Linked DNA regions of Homo sapiens: regions 1 and 3 are each linked to region 2. Evidence: fine-mapped expression QTL. A gene starts in region 2. Each other region holds a variant in brackets. All regions are shown on one strand. Distances are between the middles of the regions. Region 1 overlaps MFN2 (mitofusin 2). Region 2 holds the start of KIAA2013. Region 3 overlaps MFN2 (mitofusin 2).

Region 1 (2,786 bases), 59 kb before region 2:
AGACAGGGCTTCACCATGTTGGCCAGGCTGGTCTCAAACTCCTGACCTCAAGTGATCCATCTGCTTCGGCCTCCCGAAGTGCTGGGAATACAGGCGTGAGCCACCGTACCCAGCCATATTATCACAGTCTATTTTTGTGTGACTGTCTCTCTTGCTCTCACTCAATCCTACATATCTTTGTAGCTTATCTTTTCATATAACAACATTTTAGAGGTCATGAGACTTGACTCCAAAGTCCTAGAGGTCTTTGGTCAAAGGTCAAAAGAGGCTGGGCATGGTGGCTCACACCTATAATCCCTGCACTTTGGGAGGCCCAGGCGGGTGGATCACTTGAGACCAGCCTGGCCAACATGGTGAAACCCCTTCTCTGCTAAAAATACAAAAATTAGCCAGGCATGGTGGCAGGCACCTGTAATCCCAGCTACTCGGGAGGCTGAGGCACGAGAATTGCTTGAACCTGGGAGCTGGAAGTTGCAGTGAGCTAAGATCGCGCCATTGCACTCCAGCCTGAGCAATAGAGCAAGACTCCATCTCAAAAAAAAAAAAAAAAAGATCAAAAAGAGGCGTACACACCAGAAGGAGTGCCCAGGGTAAGACTGGGAATTCCGACCCCAAAAGTGGACCCCTGCCAGGTCCCTCAGAGTTCCCACCACGGCGAAAGCTACTTCTTGAGCAGAGCCCACCAATCCCAGGAAGTCAAAGGGCAAAGGCCCTCCTGGATGAGGGGGTGTGTGCACAGCTGACTGTGCCTGGGTCTGTCACTGCCTCCCCAGCCACCCTAATCTTACTGCTCAGTTCTCCACCCAGCAGTAAGCTCACTCTCTCTAGATTGGAAATGAGGTGTTGCTCCCCAGCAAGCACACGTGAAAAACTTCCAAATGGGGCCAAAGTATGTTGCACAAGGTCCTGAAAAGCAGAAAGAACACCCGGAAGAGGTACATGAAGACCAAATGCCAAAACGGACTTTTAGTAACTAACCATCCCAAAGAGTGGGCAGAAGACAGACCGACCCAAAGCGGGATAGGGACCCACATGTGTGCCCAAACCAACAAGTTCTTGTGCAATGTTAATGATTCCTCTGGAGACAAGGGAAGGAAGTGACCCCACTTC[C/T]GTTTCTACATTCCTCCTCAGCATGACGCCACAGCTATGAGAGATGTTTTCTCAGCATGGAAGCCATATGTCCAGGGCTTAAAGACAGTACAGCTCTGAGAAAGGAAACTGCAAAGAAAATGCTACTCTCACTCTTCCAAAGCAGCAAAGGAGAGTGCGCTGAAATGAGGCTTGCCATGGCCTGGCAGATCAGACTGTTCGAGAAAGAGGGGATGTGGCAGGCACAAGAGGAAAGCCATCCAAAAGGAATAGAAAAGGGATCAGGGGTCAGGCACGGTGGCTCATGCCTGTAATCCCAGCACTTTGGGAGGCCGAGGCAGGCAGCTCACCTGAGGTCAGGAGTTCAAGACCAGTCTAGCCAACATGGTGAAACCCCGTCTCTATGAAAAATACAAAAAATTAGCTGGGTGTGGTGGCGCATGCCTGTAGTCCCAGCTACTCCAGAGGCCAAGGCAGGAGAATCACTTGAACCTGGGAGGTAGAATTTGCAGTGAGCCAAGATCTCGCCACTGTACTCCAGCCTGGGTGACAGAGCGAAGTCTCTCTCTTTAAAAAAAAAAAAAAAAAAAAAAAAAAAGGGATCAAGGATGGGGCATGATATAGCACTACCTATGACAGGTTTTGTAATCAGGCAGAGCTGGGTTCAAATTGTGACTACATTATTTCTGGGCTGCTTAAACTTAAGCAAGTTATTTCATCACAGAACCTTGGTTTCTTCATGTGTACAACAAACAAGACACCTACTGGAGAGAGAAACTGTCTCAAATTATCTTTTTTCTCTACTCTCACACCATAATCATCAACACAAGAGACTTCTGTGACCAAATGTGAGGGGGTTTCTTCCCCACACACCAACCAGCGGACAGCAGCTGGGTATCCTCTCATTCAGTTCCCATGCTGTCTACCTGGAGAGAGTGTCAGATCCCACAGGTTGAGGGCTCAGTCCCCAGGACTGCCCCGCCTCTCCACCACCACCCCTCAAACATACCAGTTGCAAGTCTGGGCCTCCAGAATTTCTCACCGACTGGCTTCAGGCTGGGGTTCCCATGACCCCCTCTTTGAGTTCAATTAATTTGATGGAGCAGCCTACCTAGCCCAGGGAAACACTTACTTACGTTTACCAGGTTATTATGAGGGATATCGCAAAGGATACAGATAAGGAGACGCTTAGGGCGAGGTATGGGGGAAGAGGCGTGTAGTTTCTGTGCCCTCCCTGAGCAGGCCTCTCTCTAGGAACCTCCGTGTGTTCAGCTATCCACAAGCTCCCTGAACTCTGTCCTCTTGGATTTTTATGGAAGCTTCATGACATCAGCATTCCTTCCCCCAGGATACAGGGTCCACCCCTCTCAGGGGAGGGTTTTAAGGCCCACAATCAGGTGGGGAAAGATTAGGGTGGAAGGAGAGCAGAAGGTCAGAGGCCTGCCCCTGAGGCCTAACACATCTAACATTATATCAAAAAACCATAACAAGGGCTGTGGATAGGAGTTATGAGCCTGGATCCGTGGATGAAAACCAATATCCTAATACCACAATACCATCTAAACTGTGAGAAGACTAAAGTTGATGACGCAAGCAACATGCTTCACTACAGTAAGAGCTAAAGGCAGCTTTACATGTTATAAAACAATAACAACAAACTCTACCAGCAAGATCACAAGACTCTCTCCATGAACACC
Region 2 (2,701 bases):
GCCCAGGCTGGAGTGCAGTGGCGCGATCTCGGCTCACTGCAACCTCTGCCTCCCTGGTTCAAGCGATTCTCGTGCCTCAGTCTCTCAAGTAGCTGGGATTACAGGCGCCCACCACCACGCCCAGCTAATTTTTGCATTTTTATTTTTTTATTTTTATTTATTTATTTTTTTTTTTTTGAGACAGAGTCTCCCTCTGTCACCCAGGCTGGAGTGCAGTGGCGCGATCTTGGCTCACTGCAAGCACCGCCTCCCGGGTTCACGCCATTCTCCTGCCTCAGCCTCCCGAGTAGCTGGGACTACAGGCGCCTGCCACCACGCCTGGCTAATTTTTTATATTTTTAGTAGAGACAGGGTTTCACCGTGTTAGCCAGGATGGTCTCGATCTCCTGATCTCGTGATCTGGCGGCCTCGGCCTCCCAAAATGCTGGGATTACAGGCGTGAGCCACCGTGCCCAGCCTAATTTTTGTATTTTTAGTAGAGACAGGTTTTCACCATGTTGGTCAGGCTGGTTTCGAACTCCTGACCTCAAGTGATTTGCCCATCTCAGCCTCCTAAAGTGCTGGAATTACAGACGTGAGCCACCACTCCTGGCCTCTGGTGGTTCCCCTTCCCCTCCTCCTCCCTTTTCCTTTCTTCTTCTTTCTTCCTCTTCTTCTCTCTCCTTTTTTTTTCCTCCACTTTTTCGTATTGTTCCAAGTGTTTTTTTGCAGTGAGGATAGTCTTTTTTTTTTTTTTTTTTTTTGAGACAGAGTCTCACTCTGTCGCCCAGGCTGGAGTGCAGTGGCGTGATCTCGGCTCACTGCAAGCCTGCAACCTCCGCCTCACGGGTTCAAGCAGTTCTCCTACCTCAGCCTCCTGAGGAGCAGGGATTACAGGCATGCGCCACCACGCCCGGCTAGTTTTTGTATTTTTAGTAGAGATGGGGTTTCACCATGTTGGTCAGGCTGGTCTCAAACTGCTGACCTCGTGATCCGCCCGCCTTGGCCTCCCAAAGTGCTGGGATTACAGGCGTGAGCCACCGCGCGCGGCGAGAGGATGGTCATTTTTACAGAAACAAAGTTGTTGTGTGTGTGTGTGTGTATGTTTTTAAATTTTGGGGCTGTTGAATCCATCAGTAGCAAAGGGGCCCAACACGTGTTCGGTTTGGCTGGCTCGATGTTTTTTTCACGAGTGAATTGGATGCTTCCAGTCCTCCCCAGACCCCTGCACTTAACTCCACTGGACTTCACTCTTCCGGCCTGGGAACGAGTGGTCCCGCCCCCGGCAGCTTTTGTCCCGCCCTCGCCGTGGCTCCGCCCCCTTCTCTCCGGCCTGCTCTCTCTCCTCCCTCCGCCCTCCCGTTTTCCATCTGTCGTAAAAGACACGGCGACGCTTGACCGCCGGCGTCGTTTGACGGCTGGAGGCCACCGAGAAGAAGGAGGAAGCAGGGGTGGCGGCTGCTGCGGCGGTTGCGGCGGGGGCCGGGGTGGGCGCCGCGGTCCGGGCCGGGCAGTGAGGCGCGGGCGGCCGGGCCGGTGGGCTGGGCGGCGGGCCCGGCGGCCGCCCTCGCACCCTTGCCCGCGCCTGGCGGCCCGATGTGGCTGCAGCAGCGGCTCAAGGGGCTGCCGGGACTGCTGTCGAGCAGCTGGGCCCGCCGCCTCCTCTGCCTGCTTGGCCTCCTGCTGCTGCTTCTGTGGTTTGGGGGGTCCGGCGCGCGGCGGGCGGCGGGCGGCCTGCACCTGCTGCCCTGGTCCCGCGGTGAGCCGGGCGCCGCCGAGCCGTCTGCCTGCCTGGAGGCGGCCACCCGCGCCTGGCGCGGCCTGCGGGAGCGCGGTGAGGTGGTACCGCTGGGTCCTGGAGTGCCGGCCCTGGTGGCCAACGGCTTCCTGGCCCTGGACGTGGCTGCCAATCGGCTGTGGGTGACTCCCGGGGAGCGGGAGCCCGCCGTGGCGCCGGACTTTGTGCCCTTCGTGCAGCTGCGCCCGCTGAGCGCGCTGGCTGAAGCTGGAGAGGCGGTGCTGCTGCTGCGGGAGGGGCTTCTGCGCCGCGTGCGTTGCCTGCAGCTGGGGTCCCCAGGTCCTGGCCCCGTGGCCGCCGGCCCCGGGCCCGCCTCCGTCTCTGGCCTTGCCGCGGGGTCCGGCCGCGACTGCGTGCTGCTGCAAGAGGACTTTCTGGCGCACAGGGGCCGACCCCACGTCTACCTGCAGCGCATCCAGCTCAACAACCCCACGGAGCGCGTGGCCGCGCTGCAGACTGTGGGGCCCACTGCCGGCCCAGCCCCCAAGGCCTTCACCAGTACCCTGGAGAAGGTCGGAGACCATCAGTTCCTCCTCTACTCAGGCCGGTCCCCGCCTACGCCCACTGGGTTGGTGCACCTGGTGGTGGTGGCCGCCAAGAAGCTGGTGAACCGCCTCCAAGTGGCTCCCAAGACGCAGCTGGATGAGACGGTGCTGTGGGTGGTGCACGTCTCTGGCCCCATTAACCCCCAGGTGCTCAAAAGCAAAGCAGCCAAGGAGCTCAAGGCGCTGCAGGACTTGGCACGGAAGGAAATGCTGGAGCTCTTGGACATGCCAGCGGCGGAGCTGCTTCAAGACCACCAGCTCCTCTGGGCTCAGCTCTTCAGCCCAGGTGAGTCCTGGCCAGCGCTTGGTCCACCCTAGATATGTCCCTCCCAAGTCTGCAGAGGTGACACTGAAGGTGATGGTGGGGTGGTTGAAACTT
Region 3 (2,786 bases), 67 kb before region 2:
GGGTTTCACCGTGTTAGCCAGGATGGTCTCAATCTCCTGACCTTGTGATCTGCCTGCCTTGGCCTCCCAAAGTGCTGGGATTACAGGCGTGAGCCACCGTGCCTGGTCATTATACAAGTTATAAATGTTTGGCCTAGTACTTTAGGTACATTGTGGCTTCACAAGGGCCAGTGTTAAAACTGCTTCCATGTCAAAGCAAAGAAAACTGCCTACATATTGGTTTGTCCTGGTGGGGAATAAAAAGGATCATTGGTTCCAGTCACAGGTATAGTAAATGTGGGTACTTTAAGGTTTGGAGCACTTACAAGGCTGTGGTAGAAACAGATACCCCATGGTTATCACATGTTAAACCATGTGTGTCTGTGGAATACTCAATCTCAATGTGCACACCTTTGACTACAGCTGTGGAAGTGTTCCTTTAAACAAAGTTGTGACCCATTTCAATCTGGATAAGGGCAGAAATGGTTCACACTCCATTATTTGTAAAGTTATCTGCTGTTAGCTTTCATTATTTTTGCTACACTCATTTTATTTGTATTTAAAATGTTTCAGGCAACCTAAGAACAAATGTAAAAGTAAAGATGCAGGAAAAATGAATACTTCATGTATATCAAGCTAGCAGTAAAACAAAACAAAAAAAACACGTATTTAACTTATTTTTAGATTTTTTTTTTTTTTTTTGAGATGGAGTCTCACTGTCGCCCAGGCTGGAGTGCAGTGGCCCGATCTCGGCTCACTGCAGGCTCCGCCCCCTGGGGTTCACACCATTCTCCTGCCCTAGCCTCCCAAGTAGCTGGGACTACAGGCGCCCGCCACCTCACCCGGCTAATTTTTTGTATTTTTAGTAGAGATGGGGTTTCACTGTGTTAGACAGGATGGTCTCGATCTCCTGACCTCGTGATCCACCTGCCTCGGCCTCCCAAAGTGCTGGGATTACAGGTGTGAGCCACCATGCCCGGCATATTTTTAGATTCTTTGCTTTTGTGATTTTTTTTTGATGCTTGCCTAACATGCATGCACTGTAAAAATAGTTAACAGGGAAATAACTTGAGATGATGGCTAGCTTTGTTTAATGTCTTACGAAATTTTCATGAACAATACAAGCACAATTGTTAAGAACACGTGTATTAAATTCATGTAAGTGGAATAAAAGTTTTATGAATGGAGAAAAAAAAACAAATACTGTATGATTCCACTTACGTGAGAC[A/G]TCTAGAATAGTCAAATTCATAGGGACAGAAAGTAGAATGGTGGTGGCCAGGGCAAGGGACATGTGGGACAGGGAGTTATTGTTTAATGGCTATAATACAAGCTTCAGTTCTGCAAGATGAAAAAGCTCTTGAGACTGGTTGCAAATATACCTACTAGTGAATTGTATGCTTAAAATGGTTAAGGTGGTAAATTTTATATTATATGCCTTTAACCTTAATTAGAAAATAAAAAAAAAAAAGTCAGGCTTGATGGCATGCACCTGCAGTCCCAGCTGCTCAGGAGGCTCAGGTGGGAGGATCACCTGAGCCCAGGGAGGTCGAGGCTGTAATGAGCTTCCAGCCTGGGTGACAGAGAACCCTGTCTCAAAAATCAAATAAATAAATAAAATATAAATTAAGAGGAAAGCAATGAATTCTGAAGCATGTCCCTGCCTGGAACGTTCTGTGACCTTGCACAAAGTGCCTCCCTCCCTCCTAGCCAGGAAGAAAGAAAGGGTGGGTGCCTCAAGGACTTACCGGCCAAAAAAAGCCACTTTCATGTGCCTCCGAGCCAGCACCTCACTGATGCCTCTCACTTTGGATAGGTAACCTTTGACGTCCAGAACCTGTTCTTCTGTGGTAACGGGGTCCAGTTCTGCATTCCTGTACGTGTCTGGAGGTGGGGATTGAAAATGGGTCACCACGTGGTCAGAGGAGTTCCACAGTCCCAAGTCTGGAAGGGCCAGAGCGCCGGCCCTGCTTACCCTAAACGAGTCCACCTCTGGCACCCTGCAGCCGACAGGCTGAGCTCCAGATCCTCTATGGTGGCCCCACGGTGTGGTGGTTAAGAAGATGGCTCAGGAGCAACACTGCCTGGTTCTGAAGCTGGTTCTTACCACTTTCTAGCTCTGTGGCCTCAAGCAAAAGAACCTTTCTGGGTCTTAGTTTCCTTAAGCACAAAACGGAGATAACTACATTATCTACTTCATGAGAACATCGTGAGGATCAAACGAATTGAAACACAAATGCTGTGAATGGCGGCTGGTAGAAGATGAATACTTAAATGTTAACTGCCTTCCTTGTTTATTTTTTCTTAACAAATATTTACGAAGTTCTTACCACATGCCAGGCACTGTTCCTTTCACTTTTCAAATTCATTCTCTCCTTTGGTCCTCTTTATTAACATGGCTCCGGAGTTAGTAAAAGGCAGAGCTATGATTTGAATTAGGCAGCCTGGCTCTGGAGTCCAGGCTCTTAACCACTCTATGTCACTTCTTTTTTTTTTTTTTTTTTTTTTTTTTTTTGAGACGGAGTCTCGCTCTGTCGCCCAGGCTGGAGTGCAGTGGCGGGATCTGGGCTCACTGCAAGCTCCGCCTCCCGGGTTCACGCCATTCTCCTGCCTCAGCCTCCCAAGTAGCTGGGACTACAGGCGCCCGCCACTACGCCCGGCTAATTTTTTGTATTTTTAGTAGAGACAGGGTTTCACCGTTTTAGCCGGGATGGTCTCGATCTCCTGACCTCGTGATCCGCCCGCCTCGGCCTCCCAAAGTGCTGGGATCACAGGCGTGAGCCACCGCGCCCGGCCTCTATGTCACTTCT

Evidence for each region.
Region 1: its variant is fine-mapped to the expression of KIAA2013 in whole blood (TOPMed, PIP above 0.99). The same link has a PIP of 0.9 or more in monocytes.
Region 3: its variant is fine-mapped to the expression of KIAA2013 in whole blood (INTERVAL, PIP above 0.99).

The regions. Positions count from the first base shown.
Region 1 is chr1:11,984,357-11,987,142 of GRCh38, reverse strand. All of the region lies in intron 2 of MFN2 (mitofusin 2), which reads right to left. Among named protein-coding and RNA genes, the nearest start is that of MFN2, 5.3 kb to the right of the region's middle. The variant C/T (reference allele first, on the strand shown) is at 1,111.
Region 2 is chr1:11,925,112-11,927,812 of GRCh38, reverse strand. It overlaps KIAA2013, which reads left to right and starts at 1,386. Exons shown (of 3, transcript NM_138346.3): 1 at 1,386-2,608. The coding sequence starts at 1,576. RefSeq lists enhancers at 1,167-1,461, 1,116-1,779, 1,780-2,442 and a silencer at 1,462-1,531.
Region 3 is chr1:11,991,629-11,994,414 of GRCh38, reverse strand. It overlaps MFN2 (mitofusin 2), which reads right to left. Exons shown (of 19, transcript NM_014874.4): 4 at 1,725-1,860. Among named protein-coding and RNA genes, the nearest start is that of MFN2, 13 kb to the right of the region's middle. The variant A/G (reference allele first, on the strand shown) is at 1,208.